2 linked regions of the Homo sapiens genome follow. The protein of the gene in region 2 purifies or fractionates together with the protein of the main gene of each other region. This does not show direct contact. Each region holds a gene or a part of one and is shown on either strand. Other genes may lie near its edges. The genes, in order: PLOD2 and COL23A1.

Region 1 (3,824 bases), on a different chromosome or scaffold from region 2:
GCTTTCCACACCAATTACTATTTCCACAAGCAACACATCTTTTTACCACTCAACTGTTTGAACAGAAACGTGTGCCTTTTTTTTTCTAAATGTAAGGGCACATCCTTTTAGTCCTGAGAGTATACTGCCCCTTTTTAATCAGGCTGACATGTTTGAGAACTAAGGCAAAGCATGTAATGTCTTAGTCACTCTGGTCCATCATATGTATGAAAAAAAGAATGACATTCTTCTCCAATATTACCTTAGCAAAACTATTTCAATTGTGATTATTTTTAGTAATCAACCATTGTCTCTGAAATAAATATAAATCATGCACACACTTTTCAGCAAATATATTCTTTTCAATCTCTAGAAGTGAAAATCTAATATTGGTAAAAAAAACTTGTATTTAAAGCAGAATAATAGCTATTTCACACAAAAAAACTCATGCAATCAGGAATACTGGAATGTTCTGGCTGTTAGTGTTACTGTTGGCTTAATTATAAATTTTAAAACCTATCAAAACAACCCTTAATTATAACCATTAAAAAGTTAGTAAACTAAATCCCCTTTCCAAGCTTTTAAATAAAGAGTATTACTCTTCTATCAACCATAATGTGAGTATGGTAAACATATATTATCTCTTAGTATTCCCCACAGCAATGAGCTTGTTCCTTTGAAGATTTGGGACTTTAAAAACATTTTTTTAAGATATTAGTTTTATACTAGTATTTCAGGATTCCAAGTGGTCTTGGGTTCTCAAATTCCCATTAACTATAAAGAAAAGAGATGAATGCAAAAAAAATTTCAAGTAATACTAACAAGACTACATCTTTAGATTATGGTATTTCACATTAAAATATTAAACCAAGTAACTTACACTCTATTCCCTTGAACAATATCCACATAATCTTCAGATCGTGCATAGTATCCATCAGGACTCAATGCTCCCCAGAAATTGGACCACAGCTTTCCATGACGAGTTACAAGAGGAGCAATGATCTTTCTAAAGACAGAGAGAGTGTGTGTGAGAGAGAGAAACCTATATAATTATTTATTTTTAAATTACCACAGAATTATGTATTTTGGGCTTAGTATGACATATAACACAAGAAAGCTCATTCAACAAACCTGTAGTTAATAAAAATAAAATAAGGATCTTCTTTCCCAACATCTTTTCTTAAGTAAGTATATTGCTAATTTTCAATCATATTTCTTAAAAAGAGTAACAAAGAAGGAAAAAGTAATTGAAAATGCTAATGAATACATAAAAATGACTTTTAAAAATGCCTTGCTTACATCCAACAGAGGGAAACTACTTTAGTTATTTAATTATATTTAAGTTTAACTAAAGTATTTCGGAACCTATATTAAATGAAACCAAATATTTTCATTGTCACTGGGTGAACAACAGCCCCTGGTGCATTTAAGATATTCAATGAATATTTGTTGAATTTGTAAAAAATGAATGAAGATGAACTGAGATGTTTGTAAACAGGCAAAGCTTTCCTGTAATTAAGTCTCAAATTACTTAAGTATGTTTCCAGTTTTCCATGACTTTAAAAAATGACTTGTGATTACAGTAAGCTAGTCCTGGCAACACTGAACTTTCCTTTAACTATTTTAGAAAGCAAATTTATGGAACAACTATTCTTTATATGAAAAAAGAAAACCTATTTCACCTCTATCTTGTGAAGACCAGCCGGGCCCTTTCTATTACATGCACAAAAGTGAAATAAATAAACACACATCGGGCCCGGCGCAGTGGCTCATGCCTGTAATCCCAGCACTTTGGGAAGCCGAGGCGGGCGGATCACAAGGTCAGGAGTTTGAGACCAGCCTGACCAACATGGTGAAATCCCATCTCTACTAATAATACCAAAAAAAGTTAGCCAGGCATGGTGGCACGCACCTATAATCCCAGCTAATCAAGAGGCTGACACAGGAGAATCGCTTGAACCCGGGAGGCGGAGGTTGCAGTGAGCCAAGATCATGCCACTGCACTCCAGCCTGGGCGACAGAGCAAGACTCCATCTCAAAAAAATAAATAAATAAAAATAAATACACATCATGCAAAATAATAAATTTTGGTTTATTCTTCCGAATTCCTACTAAACTATTAATCAGAAACACATGTTTTGTTTTGTTTTGAATACCTACAATACTGGAAATAATAACATGAATTAGAATCTACATACATTAATTTGGGAAATAATTCAATATGAATATCAAACATTTAATTTAAAAAGAACTTGTAATTTATAATCCCAGCTGCCTCCTGAAAAGGTTTAAACCAACAAATTTGGGAAACCAAAATTCATCTGCTGTATACCTCAATGTTTTTGTGAATAAAAATGTAAGGATGGCAGCTGAGGAATGATTCATATTATTATACAATTTAAGGAGTAAAATTTAGAGCAAGGGAGCAAATAGAGATAGGGAGAGAAGAGGAAAAAAGAGAGCTGATGAGAAGGTAGAAAGCCACATGCCCAAGATGTGTCAAATCTCTTTCTCTACTCTTCAGTCCAATCTACTAAATCTTGCAACATTCCTGGCATATGTCAATAGACTATAGAAACCACATGTCTAGATACAGAAGCAAGAACCATAGGTATTACATAAACCTAAACCTTTGATTAACTAACAGAATTCCATGGAGACACAGCCTGAGTTTTACTCTTTAAGGGGCAAGGGCCCCAGATGGCAGGTAAGTCTTTTTCTTTTTTTTTTTTTTTTTTTTTTGAGACGGAGTCTCGCTGTGTCGCCCAGGCTAGAGTGCAGTGGCGCAATCTTGGCTCACTGCCAGCTCCACCTCCTGGGTTCACACCATTCTCCTGCCTCAGCTTCCCGAGTAGCTGGGACTACAGGTGCCCGCTACCACGCCCGGCTAATTTTTTGTATTTTTAGTAGAGATGGCGTTTCACTGTGTTAGCCAGGATGATCTCGATCTCCTGACCTCGTGATCCACCCACCTTGGCCTCCCAAAGTGCTGGGATTACAGGCGTGAGCCACCACACCCGGCCGGGAATTTTTTTTCTTTTAGAAGATTTAAAATGTTTAATATTAAGAGGGATATATGTCAAATACATAGTGTAAATTCATTAAATAGTTCACTAAGAGAATAATTAATAAATATATAAATTATAGTCATAAAATGAAAATATCTAATTATTAAAAAGCATATGGGCATTACACACTATAGCATTTCAATCAAATTAAGAGAAAACAATGCAAATTCAAGAAAATAGTACTGAATTAAACTAGGTTTTAAGAGTTACAAATCATACACTATTTCATATCTCTAGGGTGTCACAACTGCTTTTCCTTGCCAAATGATCAAAACCTCATTCATATGCTTTGGAAAATTACCTACGATGTATATAGATAGTTAACTTAGATACTGAGTATCTATAACACAGCTATACAGTTGGGCTGTATATACAGGTTGCTACAGAGAGGTCTTAGATTTTTGAAGTAAGAACTAAATTCTCAAATTTACAAATTCTAGTGATATATATATATAGATAGATATTATATATAGGGTGGGTTAATAAAGCATACTACATTTCCCATGTATCTTACTTAACAAAATAAAAACAATCATTCTAACATTTCACCCGCTAAACATTCTATTTATTATGAGAAATAATTGTGTTAATACATGTACTTACAACAATACCTGGCACTTAATAAGCACTTGTTAAAGGTGAGGTCTTAGCAGGAGTAGTAAAAATGGTATTATTAGTATTAGCAGTAGTATTGACAAACAAACTTAGTATCATTGTAAGCTGATATACATGGTGTCTTTTTCCCATTTCAATTGAGTTAAATGAGCAAACAGACAC
Region 2 (3,824 bases):
TTTTTTTTTTTTGTATATTTAGTAGAGACAGGGTTTCACCGTGTTAGCCAGGATGGTCTCTATCTCTTGACCTCGTGATCCACCCGCCTCGGCTTCCCAAAGTGCTGGGATTACAGGTGTGAGCCACCGTGCCTGGCCGGTAATGTTCTCTTTTTAAAGTCTAGGGTGGGCACCAGAGTCCTTGCAGCCCTGCATCTGGGCCTATGTCCCTCAAAATAGCTACCTGATTTTCCTGAGAACAACCTCCTTCTCATAACCCATTGATTCCACCCCAGTCCATGGTCTCACTAGTCAGGGCACTGCATTCCTATGGCTAAGTGACAGTTCAGCGTTGACCTAACTGGGACCAGGGAGAGCCCATGAAACTTCCTGTAGAACACTGGAGTTCTACTCTGGAGTCAAATTTTCTTTCTTCTTAGTTTGGGCCTGGCAGGATGCTGGTCTCGAGCTGCTGGCTTTACCTCACCACCACGTGGAACTTGATTTCCACAGGGAAAGCAGACAAGACAGGGTGAAAGGCTGAGTTGTGTTGACACAGTTGAGCCCTGGATCCATGTGTTGAACCTCCAGATTTTTCAGTTATGAGTAATTTTAAGCCAGTTTAAACTATGTTTTCTATGTATGCTACCAGAAGAGACTTGACATAATCAGCCTGGGCTAATACTTCCCTTCCTCTTCTTCTCAAATTACTGCTCTAGCTAAAGCCCTATTATCTGTCACCAGGATATTGCAACAGGCTCCTCACTGCTCTCTTCACTTCCTTGCTACAATGCATCATCCATCCATCCATCCATCCCTCCACTGCCATCATCATCCATCCATCCACTCATCATCTATCATCCATCCATCCATCCATCCCTCCACTGCCATCATCATCCATCCATCCACTCATCATCTATCATCCATCCATCCATCCACTCATCATCTATCATCCATCCATCCGTCCATCCATCCCTCCACTGCCATCATCATCCATCCATCCACTCATCATCTATCATCCATCCATCCGTCCATCCCTCCATCCCTCCACTGCCATCATCATCCATCCATTCACTCATCATCTATCATCCATCCATCCATCCATCCACCCACCCATCCACTCATCATCTATCATCCATCATCCATCCATCCATCCCTCCACTGCCATCATCATCCATCCATCCATCCATCCATCCATCCATCCATCCATCCATCATTCATCTATTATCCATCCATCCATCCATCCATCCATAGTGGATAGATAGATGAATGGATGGATGAGTCCATTCAATCCTCCATCCATTCATCCATCATTCTTCCATTATCCATCCACCCACCCATCCATCCATCATCCATTCATCATCCACCCACCCATCATCCACCCACCCATCATCCACTCATCCATCACCCATCCATCCATTCACCCATCCATCCATTCACCCATCCATCCATTCATTCATCCATCCATTCACCCATCCATCCACCCATCCATCCATTTATCCATCCATCCATCAATCCTGCATTATGCATTCATCCATCCATCGATTCATCCTCCATTGTCCATCCATCCTCCATCTACCAATGTATCCATCCATTTATCCATCCATCAACAATCCATTCATCTATCCACAAAGGACCTACTCTGGGTCGTGCACTGGACTTGGCAATGGGGACACAGGGGGAACCAGTCAGTTGCAGTCCCAGCCCTGGGGAAAGGGGTCACACTTGAGTAGCCAGATCAGGTTACTGCATGAGGGCAGAAGATACACACAAGAGGCACCCAATTACTCAAAGTGATGATAAGACACTTACATCTAGTCCTGGCTCCCCGGGTCTGCCCTGAGGAGAGACACAGAGTGGGTGAGAGGGGTTGGGGAGGGGTGCTGGGAGCACAGCTGCTGGGAAGTCCAGCCCTGTGGGTTGGCCACAGACATGGGGGCAAGGAGACCCACCAACCACGCAGGCATAGATGGAGGCCAGGACAGACCTGGCATCCACAGAGCCTGAACTCTGGCCCTGCGAAGTGCAGGGACCCAGTGAGGTACAGGGTTGGGGTCCCCGGGCTGAGCGCCACCATGACCAGGTGGCCACGGTTGGAGAGGGAGTTCCGAATGAGGCGGTTACCTTCTCTCCTTTGGTTCCTGGCAGCCCAATAAGGCCCGGTGGGCCAACTGGCCCCTGGATAGAAAAGGAATGAGTCAAGAGGCATGCTAGTGACAGGAATTAACACCTTTGGGACAAACAACGCTTGTGAGACTCACAGGCAGGCCGCTGGGGCCTCTCTCACCCGACGCACCCTTCTCTCCCTTTGCTCCATCCAAGCCCTGGAGGCAAAGGAGGGAAATCAGTCAAGGGGAAGGGGTTAGACAGACAGTAGGACAGGCAAGCTTGGAGACTGCAAGGGAGCTGGGATGTGGACAGAGGAACAGATCGAGGCTCCCCCAGGCCTGGCCCCAGCTTACTCCCTGGTGAGGGTGATCAGGAGGAGCTCTGGCCATGCGCATTGCGCCTTTTCCAGAACAGGCTCCCTCAGCCCCATGGAAGGTGATTACGGTCACACCCATTCCAAAGATGAGGAAAGCAGGTGCAGACGGGGGGCGGGGGGGGGGGGACAGGCCCAGCCACACAGCGGGAGGCAGCAGAGCTGGGTCCCCATCAGGCTTCTACGGCAAGCCTTGGACCCTGTCCTGATAGCAGCTGCCTCTTTGAAACATGAACTGTGGTGGCCTTAAGAGAAAGCAGAACCAGAAGCAGAGCACCTGGTGGGGCTGCAGGCTCGGGCCTGGGCTTCCACGATTCTCAGTCCCACATCTGGCCTCTGAGCTGGGGAAGCAGAGATTTGCTCACGCCAGGAGGGTGGTGTGACAAGGAGTGAGGCCAGGTGGCCTCCCCTTCTGTGTCTGCCTCCCTGGGGCAGGGCATGCAGGCAGGCCACACTCGAGGACTTAACGTAAGAGCAGGGAACACGCCATCATGTAATATACACCAAGCCCAAGACTTTGTGCTTAGACTGTGGCAGCTGAGAGACAGATGTGTGTGGGGCGGGCTGGGATGGGGAGAGGTGGGGACAGTGCAAGGAACTGACAGGCACAGACAAAGGAGAAGGGGACAAGCAGTGGAAACGGTGGTGGACCTGAGGAGGAGAGAGGGACAGACTGGGGTCCCGGGCAGAGGGAGAAAGTGGGAGAGGAGAGCCTCAAGGGTGGAGAGGGGGGCATTGGCCTCAACGACATCGGGGAGGTTATGCCCTGGGGACTTGGGACGTTCAGGCGCTGGGAAGACTCAGGGATGGGCCAGGGCGGAGCGTCAGGCCCTTTGCTTTGCCCATTGGCAAGGCTCTTGGAAACTGCCCAGACGGTGAGTCTGAGGCCAGTAGAGGGGTCTGTGCCCACTCACCTTGGGACCCTGGATTCCCTGGAGGCCCTGCAGGAGGAGGAAGCAGATAAGAAGGCTGGCTCCGGACCCTCTTGCAGTGGCCACTCACTGGCCCCTGGGGCCCTGTCCTGGGCTCTGCCCTCTGCCCATGTGCCCCTCCCTGAACGAAGAAGCCCGCTCTCTCCTGGGTCATGGCTCTGGGACCTAGCCCCCACCCCGCCTCTTGGTTTCCTGGCTGCTTCAAACCAAACCAAAGCAAACCGTCCTTACCATCGGGCCTGGGGGGCCAGGGGGGCCAGGGGGCCCTGGCTCCACTATGAGCTGAGCCTAGGGAGGGTGAGAGACAGGTTAGTCACCCACCGCCTGTCACCCTCACCTACCCGCACCCGAGCTCATCGCACACTGCTGGATCGAGAGTCTCCTTCCTGCCCCCCAGAGGGCAGAGTCTGGTGAGCAGGTGGCAGCTGGTC

What was found.
Region 1: the proteins of COL23A1 (region 2) and PLOD2 purify together in Homo sapiens (affinity purification with mass spectrometry; one large-scale study listed by BioGRID and IntAct). This does not show direct contact.

Annotation. Positions count from the first base shown.
Region 1 is NC_000003.12:146,080,879-146,084,702, forward strand, and holds part of PLOD2 (procollagen-lysine,2-oxoglutarate 5-dioxygenase 2 isoform 1 precursor), read right to left. Parts: intron 986-3,824; coding exon 860-985; intron 1-859. UniProt on the Homo sapiens protein: Forms hydroxylysine residues in -Xaa-Lys-Gly- sequences in collagens. These hydroxylysines serve as sites of attachment for carbohydrate units and are essential for the stability of the intermolecular collagen cross-links.
Region 2 is NC_000005.10:178,244,151-178,247,974, forward strand, and holds part of COL23A1 (collagen alpha-1(XXIII) chain), read right to left. Parts: intron 3,682-3,824; coding exon 3,625-3,681; intron 3,403-3,624; coding exon 3,376-3,402; intron 2,304-3,375; coding exon 2,241-2,303; intron 2,158-2,240; coding exon 2,104-2,157; intron 1,819-2,103; coding exon 1,792-1,818; intron 1-1,791.